2 separate regions of the Homo sapiens genome follow, and region 1 is linked to region 2. Evidence: fine-mapped expression QTL. Tissue or cell type: whole blood. Region 2 holds a variant in brackets; the other region holds the start of a gene. Each region is shown on its reference strand, or each on the opposite one. Region 1 holds the start of FCER1A (Fc epsilon receptor Ia). Region 2 overlaps LINC01412 (long intergenic non-protein coding RNA 1412).

Evidence for each region. PIP is the estimated chance that this variant, and not a neighbour inherited with it, causes the effect.
Region 1: FCER1A starts here. The variant in region 2 is fine-mapped to the expression of FCER1A in whole blood (TOPMed, PIP above 0.99).

The regions. Positions count from the first base shown.
Region 1 is chr1:159,298,967-159,304,293 of GRCh38, reverse strand. It overlaps FCER1A (Fc epsilon receptor Ia), which reads right to left and starts at 1,958. Exons shown (of 5, transcript NM_001387280.1): 1 at 1,875-1,958; 2 at 1,420-1,440; 3 at 112-366. The coding sequence starts at 1,929.
Region 2 is chr2:144,569,713-144,575,102 of GRCh38, reverse strand. All of the region lies in intron 2 of LINC01412 (long intergenic non-protein coding RNA 1412), which reads right to left. Among named protein-coding and RNA genes, the nearest start is that of LINC02993, 48 kb to the right of the region's middle. The variant A/C (reference allele first, on the strand shown) is at 3,282.

The sequences.
Region 1 (5,327 bases), not on the chromosome of region 2:
CCTTGAATCCCACTCTGGTGTCCTAACCCTTGGAATAACCTGTTTTTTCCCATCTTCAGATGAGCCATCCCTCACATGAGAGATCTGTATTTCCATATCCCTGGAACTTACCACTGAAGACTTCCAGGTACACAGGTTCACTCTCATTAACTTGTTGGTGCTGACATTTGTATTCTCCACTGTCTTCAAATTTGGCATTCACAATATTCAAACTTGAATTTGTCTCTTCTGAAAGGCTGCCATTGTGGAACCATTTGGTGGAACTGACTTCAAAGAAATTGTTCCCATTACATGTAAGAGTCACATTCTCTCCTTTAAATATTCTATTCCATGGAGGGTTCAAGGAGACCTTAGGTTTCTGAGGGACTTCAAGAAGATAAAAATATGAAAAGACATGTAGAGAGAAAAAAAGTCATTGAAAACTGTCTAGGCTTAAAAGTACAAACGAAGCAATATTCTGACAATCAGTGGTCAACCTGTCCTTATTCTGTTGGTGATAAGACCCTGTTTTGATTTCTAGGGGAAGGAGAAATTAGTATTGGTGCCCCAGGGAACGCCCAACACAGGGAGAAAGACAGGACACATATGCAGGAGATTTAAAAACAAAGAAACCAATTCACTATGTGATTTGAGCTGACTCACTCTACTTCTGTTAATTTCAATTCAGTATCTGTAAATGAGGACTGCAATCTCTTTTGAGGTAGAAACACTGTCTGCCATGTTCAACCATTGTTACATTAAATATTTATTATGTGAATGAATGAGTGAATTATGGATGGATAAATTTACTGGACTGGATGAAATATAAGGTTTCTCCAAGCTCTGAATATTTATGACTATTTAATTGTAAGTATATACAGAGTGAAAAACATATGTCAGTTCCAGAAAGTAGTGAGAGGCACTAAGAAAGTCAGTCTTGAATGGCTTCCTGGAACAAGGGGATGTAGTGCAAATTTGAACAGAGACCAAAGAAGTAGATACATGGTGATAACAAAAGGGTGATATAGTCAGAAGAGAACTGGACTTAGATCCAAGGAACTTACGTTGAAATCCAGTTCCTTAGCCATGTAACCACCAGAAAATCACTGAGTTTCAGCATCCTCAATTATAAAATGGCAATAATAATAATAATGTAATTATTGAGCGAGATCATGCCAAAGTGTCTAGGAGAGAGAATGAGACATGTATATGTGCAACAGACATGGTTATTGACTAAAACAGAGGAGAGAATGACTTGAGAGAATGCAATGAATCAGGGAAAAAAAGAAAGACAAGGCAAGGTGGAGAGGGAAAGTAGTCTGGCCAAGGAACAGATTCATGCTCATTAGAAAGCAGAAGTGATGGGACGAAGAAAATAGTGAGAGGAAAGCAATGCCCAGACATGTTGAAACACCAAGGGAACAAGAACAGAGGACTCACCTGCTAACACGCCATCTGGAGCTGCAAAAGTCCAGAGAGGATACATTAGTGTCCAGCAGTCTTCTTTATCTCCAGAGGACTAGAATCTGGGTGTGGGGATAAGATCTACATCCATGGAATTTTAAGGACCAACCGTCTTTTCAGGAATCAGAATCAGGGGAAGAAAGAGCTTCTTTCTCTCCTCTACCCTCATTTCCTTGGTAGGAAATTTGCACTCTGGAAGATGCCAGAGCAAATGCAAGGAACCAAGCTTTCAGTCTGGCTTCCTCCTTAGGTGTTGCTCAGCCCACTTGCCTCTGCTTTCTAGCTTGGCTCCACTACAGAGTCCCTGGGAAATGCCCAATAGTTTGCACATGTCCTAGAAAAAGTCACCACCCACAGTAAAGGTTCCTACCCCAGCTGCTCCCCAAATTCATTTGGGCCTCCCTGGGAGGGGTAATTGAATCTCTACTTACCGAAGAACAGTAAGGCTACACACAGTAGAGTAGGGGATTCCATGGCAGGAGCCATCTTCTTCATGGACTCCTGGTGCTTACTGTGCTGGAGAGATCTAAGGCTTCAAATATAGGCTTAAAACCAAAAAGCAGAAGGAAATGTTTTCTGTATCATATCTGGTTAACCCATCAGCTGTGCCTGGTTTTGCTTCTTTCTTTAGAGATAATATTCAGGATGGTGCCCAACTGGGCAATTTAATATTTACCCACTTACTCCACTCCCTATCCCACCTCCACATATACACCTGGAATCTGGTGAGAGAGAGGCATAGGTCTAGCACAATCACAAGCCTTTCTTAATCTGTCAATCTGTGTACAACTATTTAGTTTACAACTTAGAAAAGTGGGATGCAAGGGAGAGCAGAATAAAACAGCAGCAACTAATTACTGAATACCAAACATATGCCAGGTGTTATCCTAAATAAATCTGATATTTCATTTATTTTTCACAATAATCCTATAAAGTACATACTATCACTATCTACATTTTATAAACAGGAAAACTGAATCTTAGTGAGGTTAAGTAACTTGTTTTGGGGTGCCAACTATTAAATAACTAATTTGGGGTTCAAACACATAAAATCTAACCCCTAAGTCAAACTCTTAGTCATATGATGTACTGTTTATACATATTCAGGAGCATGGCTAGCAACTGCCAAATTCTTTTGGGATTCACCAGAGCTACCAACGCTTTTCTTGTTTAATTTCCTGCTGATCAGTTAGTGCATAAATCCACAAATTTTCATCTGATTCACTGATGATCCGCTGTCTGACCAGCGAAATTGGAAACATTTTCAGAGACTCCTCTTTCTCTACTGTGCCCTAATCTGGCTCAGAACACAGGAAGGCAGAAGTTAAACCATTACTTATGGGGATCTAGGCCATATAATTTATTTTATTTTACTTCCTAGCTTTTGTTTACTTTTAATATTATAATTTCCCAACATGATCTCCCTTTCTCCTTTAAATACACAGCAGGGGCTTTCTCCAGGATTCCTTTACTAATTCTTCTGTTTTTTTGCTCTAGGTCAAGGCTCAACCTTCTTCCAGGATCTGATATTAATGATAATACTGGAAATGAAAACTCTATTAATGTCTATAGTGGCTTGTCATTTGCAAAGATTGCTTTTAAATGAGTGTCCTATTTTATCTTTACCAAAACTCTGAAGAAGACAGGGACAGTATATTTAAACCCACTTCACATCTGAAGCACTTGAGGAACCATTCTATCATACCTTGCTCTTCCCCACAGACTGCTGAATTAAGTCTATTGAATGAAACCAGTCATTCCACATGAAGATCTAACCAAAACCTTTAGTTTTCTATGGAATTAGAAAATATAGGGCTAAAAAGGTTAATAAATAGGAATTTAAGTTTCAGATAAGAAAGATTAGGTACTGAGCCCAGGACATGCTATGTTTTAATGACAGACCTTAAAGGTAACAGCAAGTTATTTTGAAAAGTACAAGTTGTTTGTGTTTTAAGCTCTGAATTCAAATGTTCCTAATTTTTATGTGATTGAAGGTTACCTGTATAATAGGGACAATAATGGTATCCAGGTCATGGTTATATTATGAGATTTAATAAGATAAAAAAGAAGTAAAATGCATTGCACAGCATCTGACATGTGAAATATGGTCAATAAATACATTTTTTGTCTTCTTTATTATCATTATTTATTAAAGACTTATAGGAGAAATATGAATTTTGACTGGATTAAAGTTATTGTCAACCTACATAGTATGTTTAATTTGATAAACAACATCTTATGCTAGTTTAATATATCTACGCAATCTCAATCCTCTCCACAGTCACAAAGAAGAGAGCATAATCAGGAAAGAACAGAATGCAGAAAGTTGTTGGATAGGATTGGAGAAGAGAAGGAGGAGGAAATAGGGAAGATGTAGTTTTTAAGGTGCTGTCAGAGGGCAATATTTGAAGCCCTAAGCCCTGGAAGAGACGGGGAAAGATTCTACTTTACCAGTTTGTTGAGACTTTGCCAGGGGAAATTTGGGTTCCTTTTTCCTAGGACAGTGAACCTACAATCAAATTGTCCCTCAGAGAGAGTCATTTTACCATGACTCAAATAGTCTATTTAAAGGCTTCCTCTGAAGTCGTTATCTAAATAGCTCCTACTTAGATGGGAGATGGAGCAGGGCTCATCGAGAGGTACTATTCCTAGTTCGAAGAGTATAAGCTTTGGAGTTAGGGAGGCCACTTTCATTTCTAAAGCTTTCTGAAACTTTGGATTTATCATTCTAAAGCTTTTGCTTAAGTGCCCGGTATTGAAATAAAGGAAGTGCTTTGGTAGCAGTAACAGCAAAAATGTAGCAGTCCAATAAAAGCAGCTCATTAAAGCCTAAAAAGCAACCAAACTACCCATCTTCCCAGCCCACCCCCACCCCAAAAAAGCAAACCATTAACAGCATCGGAAAGAAAAAGCCATACCCTAATTTCCATAGCATATAACTACAGGTACCCAAAAGAACAGAACAAGAACACAGAAGGAACACATTAACACTAACATTAAACAAGAGCTCTATTCCTCCCTGGAAGAACGGGCTGATACACAGTTGAATGCCACAGGTTTTTTATCTTATATATAAAAAAAAAAGTCCTTCAAGTTTCATATCCATTATCTGGGTGGAGTGGGCTGCTACTAATTTCTCATACCCAGCCTGTCCACATCAGGAACACACGTTCACTGAAATCAATAGGGCGTGTCTAAATTTCAGTTCTTGCTTCTGATTCTGGGTACAGGAATGCTCAATACACAAAGAGTATCACTATGCCCAAACTTGGACCTGTTATTTGATGTTGGGAGCCTTAATCTATATTTCATTTTGTAGCAGTGGAAAAATGAAACAAATGGCTGTACATGAGCTACAGGGCCTGAGGACTGTGAGGTGCCCCTGCAACTGGATCCAGCGTGAGAGGCTTTGGGCAGGAACTTTTGTGTTTCGGGACGTGCCTGGCAGAGGGAGGATCAAGGCTCAGCCTATACAGTGTGTTAGCCTTTATGTCCTTCTCCAAAACTGGGAAGCAGAAAAACCAAATCAATCTGCTGGCTTCCTTCTCACTCTCAAAGTTCTCTAAAACAAGGTGAGGTCCATATAAAATTGAATATGAAACGATGAAAGTGCAAAATGCCTGTCTGCTCGTGATATTTATGTACCTAACAAATGTTGATCTCTCCCTGAGGATCAAATACAAGGCTAACTATGCAACATGTCCTATCTATTTTCCTCCTACTACCAACTCTATGTAGTTAAGAATAAGGAAATCAAAGCATGAGAGGTTAAGTAACTTGTCCCAGGGCACACAGTTGCTATGTAAAGGAATTAGAATTTGAACCTGGCAATATGTCTTAAGAGCACATGCTCATGACCAGATAGATAGATGATTGATTGACAG
Region 2 (5,390 bases):
AGTAGATTTTGAAAGCTGATGAGCTAAGTAAGAAAGTTTCAATGATACCTTTCAGGAAAGGCAAGTCTTTGACAGTTTCGAGCAGAGGTGTGATGAACCAAAACTTATGTTTAGAAAGATCCAACTAACCGTGCAAGTGAAAGGAAGTGGAAGCAGAGAGTTCAGTCAGAAAACCATTTAAATCATCCAGTTATACAGTAAAAATAAATTAGGATGGGTGGTGTTAGTGGAACTGAAAAGAAAGAGACAATTATAACAGAAATTGTGAAATAATTAATGGAACCTATTGATGTGTAGGACTATGCCACTTATCATTCAAATGAGGAAGAGCTGGATACTTTTCTACATCAAAGTCAATCTTGACTTGCAAAGTAGTCAAAAGGGCAACAAAAAGTCGTTTATAAAGATTGAAGATCATGAAAGAGTCCACTATTCTCCATATGCTCTGTTTGTTTGTTTGTTTGTTTGTTTGTTTGTTTGTTTTGAGTCACCCAGGTTGGAGTGCAGTGGCACAATCAGGGCTCATTGAAGCTTCAACCTCAGGAGCTCAAGCCATCCTCCCACCTCAGCCTCCCAAACTGCTGGGATTACAGTAGGTGTGTGCCACCACACCTGGCCTCAATATGCTTCTAAATGGATAGAAGAGCCAATATTCTCAAGTAAGGTCATCCTTACTTGACAGGGTTGAAGCAATTTTCCTGAGCCTCAGGTTTAAAGGTGAGAAGGGATGGCTATCTCACATGTATGTCAGGCTATATCCCAAGGCCTCATTGGTATTAGAATAGTGGCTGATGGGGATCTATAACACCTCTATTCCTAACTTCTGATAGTAGTTCCAACCCTGCCAACAGTTACAGACAATATATGTGTAAGAAGAAAATATGTTTCTCCCAGCTATAAAAGGATGTGGCTTCATCAGACTCTGTCTTTTTGGATCCAAAAACCAAAAAGAATTCTGGTTCAAATGGTGTTTGGCATTAATACAAAGAAGAGAATGCTTCCGTCAGTGAAAGTTAAAAGCCACAAAAGTCTGCCTAATGAAGATATTGAATACGTCTTAGTTCACATATGCATGTTTATAATTTAAGATAATTGAATTTTTATAATTTTATATAATTTAAAGTTATAATTTTTATGTAATTTAAGATTATAAATTTTATTATTTTTATGTAATTTAAGCTTATACACAGACCAAGGCATTGACTATTAGATATGATTTCAGGCATTTTGAGAGAAAATGCCCTAGACTTTTCTAAGTTTGATCAGAGAAACATTCTGAATGGAGTCTGTTCCCACTGTTAGCATTAGATATGTAAAGGTATATGTGAATCTTAATTTTTCCAGCAGGATCAGTTGTGTAATTTATATTCATTCTCATCTCAGCTGCACTAATTTATAAATCCTAATCCTAATTAAGATCCATACATAGTAGCTGCTATATAAATAAACATATAACAATTGTATTATTTTCTATTGTTTACATTTTAAATTATTCATTAGGATTCAGCTAATCAAAATAATTTCATCTGTAGGCGAAGACAAATTTGGTTCACTTGCACAACCAACTAAAAAAAATCCTCTGAGTAGAATTTTAGCATTACAGACATGTTAAGATTTTTTTAGTTCATATCGAATCTGCCTAAAAGTATTTTCCCATCCAGCATGTTGAATTGCAGACCATCAGAGCTCTCGTTTACTATCTTGTAATGCAACAAACAAAACCTACTTTTGTTTGTTACCTAGCTCCTATTGGTGACCCTGAAAAGATCAAGTTACATCTGACTTTCTTATTTTTCACTGGTGGTGTCAATTCTTCTAGTGACAATTACATAGGGCTGCTACAGTTTCTGCTTTCACTCTTAAGGGGCTAACTAGTTACTAAAGTTGCCTATGAAACCCAAGAGTAACCCACAAAGCACAAGTAGAAATTGCATATGCTCATCTTTCTTTATTGTTCAAAACTAACAACCTCATGAAAGTTTCAGAAGATGTCATAGAGTCAGACCTCTAACATCATGGCAGTTTGAAGAGAATAGTGGTTCTATCAATAAAATGTCAGGGAAGATTTGCATGGTGAACCTCTGACTCTACTTCAAGGGATGCAATTAGATAAATATGCTAGATTTAGAGAATTGATCTAAAAATGTAGCTGCAGTCAGTTCCTAAGGACTTCAGAATTTTAATATTTATGAAATACATTAATTTTGTCAAAATAGGGAGAATCAGACAGAAAGAGCTGTCATGGGTCCTCACTTTGCCAAGCTAAATCATAAAGAAGGGTTACTAACTCTGCCACTGTTTTCCACGTGGAGACCAGATCTTCTTTTGACTACTGGGTAGCCTCTCCCTGTCTCCACAGAAGTTCACGTTTACTACATTTGACCTCTGCACCCAGCACTCCCAGACCTCTCTAAGTATGTGCCTATTGTAACATCAGATGGAATCTTTCTGCCTCCCTTTGCTCCCAATAGTTTTAAATTAGCTGAAGTTAACATATTTAATTGAGAGCCACATTATAACATTGTTCTAAACACTTTGTCTTACATTACATAAGACACTACTGGGATTTTAAATTTCCAAGTAACAGATCATCTTGAAAGAGGTTACAGTCAATTGTTTAATAAAGTGAATCACTGAAACTTTGAGCTCACTGAGGTCATTTTAAGCTATATTCTGTGATACTCCAATTAGTTCATTCAGTGCATATTTATTAAGTCCTACCATGTATAAGGCACTGTGAACCAGAACAGACATAGGTTTATGGAGTTCCAGGTCTCATGATGGAACCAATACTTCAGAACTTGTGTTCAATTATAAGCAGATATGAAGACCTTTTTTTAAAAAACAAAAAAAGTTTGCTGTATTTGATACAAGCTCTCTCATCCCAGCCTTCTACTCAATTATCTCTTTAGCCATGCATATTAGTATTTGACAAAGAAACTCATTTCTAACATCTTTATATGGTGGAATTTATGATGTCATGGTTAAAACAATGGTCTTTGGTGTCAGATATGTCAGAATGCAATGCTGCTTCTGCCACTTACTAGCTTTGTGATATTGGTAAAAATCCCTTAATCACCCTGAACCTCAGTTTTTTCATCTGTAAGGTAGAAATACTTATTTTTTTGGTGACGTCATGAGGATAAAATGAAACAATCTGCATGGAACCTTTAGCATATATTCTCACATGTAGTGGGCATTCAATAATTGTTTTCATTATAAAGAGGAGAGTTTGGGTGAGGAAAATGTGCATGATGCATTTGGTAACCAATATGACTTAG[A/C]AGTACCAGTAGATACAGTGGCAGAACTCTCTTCCACTGATAAGGGAAAAAAATGTAAATCTTGATGGAACCACAGGAAGCAAAATATCTAGATCTAGAGCAAGGAGAGAACCGTGGTGCTGGGGAGAAAAGAGCATCAGGAGTATCTTAGCTAGGGTTCCACTAAAAGCAGAGCCTGAAACAAGGAATAAGATGCATGTTAGTTTTCCCTAGAAATGAGAGGGCGGGAATAGCGGGAATAAGGAAGGGCTGGAGGAAAAGCCAAATAATGTTCCTAAAGGGTACCTAAGATTCCTGCTGTTGAAAATAGGACCTCTGAGAATGCCTAGTGCTTTTCAGAATTGCCTGTTCAAAAAATCGTTGGCGGGAATACTTATCACAAAGATTGCCCTGGCAGGTGTTAATTCCCCCTATATTTCCATGCTAGGCCTGAGGGAGGAATCATGAAGCAGGCTTCTGCAGCCTGGGAGAAGGCTCTGAGGCAGAAATTGGGATGATTCACAAAGTGTTCTAGAGGTGGGACCACCCAGGCCCAGCCTAGGTTTCCTAGGAACTGTCCTCTAAAGCTATAGTGAAATCAGTAGGGGGCATGGGGCTCCAAACTTCTCTTCTACAAATAGGCCTCCTGATAAGCCATGGAAAGCATCAGAAAGTGAAAAATGCTACTAGCAAAAGTGAATGCTGGCCCCAAAGATAAATCAGATATTTGGTTTTCTGGAAGCTTTGGCTTAGTTTCTAGATTATTATTAATCTAGCCACTAGATTATTGTAACCAAAGTTAAATGAAACAAAATAAAAGTGCAAGGACATAGAATCTTTCCCCTCCCAGAAGTTCTTACCAGGGTTAGAATCACAAGGATTTTAAACTTGGCTACCTATATAGTCAAAATACTGCCACAAAAAAGATGTGGCTTCACTAACATAATATATCATTGCATCATTCAATTCTCTACACCTATAATCACCGAACATTCTAGTCAAAGCCTGATCGATGTAAGCTACACTCTTCCATCTTCTCTAATGTCTCTATATTAGTCAGGCTGATGTCACAGTATACTGAAAATGACAAGTCACAACTTACCCTAGGAACATGATACGGGAAATTAAACTCAGCATTAAGGAGCTAAAAAGCTTTTGGTTTCTATTTGAAGGGGGCAAGCTGGTTGGCCTATCTGGTCTGACAGTAAAAGGTAAAATCATTTTAAAATAATAATTTCTCAGTATTCAGTCACATATTCAATGCATGGCTGTAATTTCTATCCAACCAAAGTACTACCTAAGGTTGCCAGATAAAATACAAACATTGCATGGGACATTCTTATCCTAAAAAAATTCATTAGTTATTAGACATTCAGATTTAACCGGGCAATCTTTATTTTTGTTTACTAAATCTGGCAACCCTAGTGCCCCTTCCAAACAAGAACAGAGAAAGAGCTGCTTATTAAAACAGACCCCAAGTGTTTTGGAATGATGTCCCGTACGTTTTAGGACTTTCCAGTAGCAGCAATATTAATAAATTGATATCTGAATTAACTGTAATGGTCTACATATTGTTTTCTTAGGCATGTTTTTAAAAACTTTTCAAAGCATTTCAATAATGTATTTTGTCACAACATGGCCATTTGTATCTTGAAAAAATATTGTGATGGTAAGAGGAAAATCCCATTTCAAATCCTTTCAAATGAACTTTCAAGAGACTCTCATTTACTTCAGTCAAGTAAGCATACCTTAAAATGTTTTCATATTATTCACTTAAATATTCTCTCATAAATAAATAAAGTTATTAATCAACTTGTAAGTCCCAGAACCATACCGCAAAATTCTTTGATAAAGAAACATCCAAAAACCACATGGAGAGTCACATCATTTTAGTTGCAAGATTCCTGTTCCAGCTCACCTTCCAAAACAATTTCAGTCAAGTAGAAATGCTCTGACAATCCTCACTCAGAATAGCAAATAATCCCTGCCTTTTCATTCATTCACTCATTACCTCTCTAAAACGAGAATGTGCAGTTACCAGAATTTTATACAATTAGTGCTCCAAGAGTGTTTTAAATGCAAACCTTTAAGAGGAAAGTAAAAACAAATCAAAGTTAATTGTGACTGGCT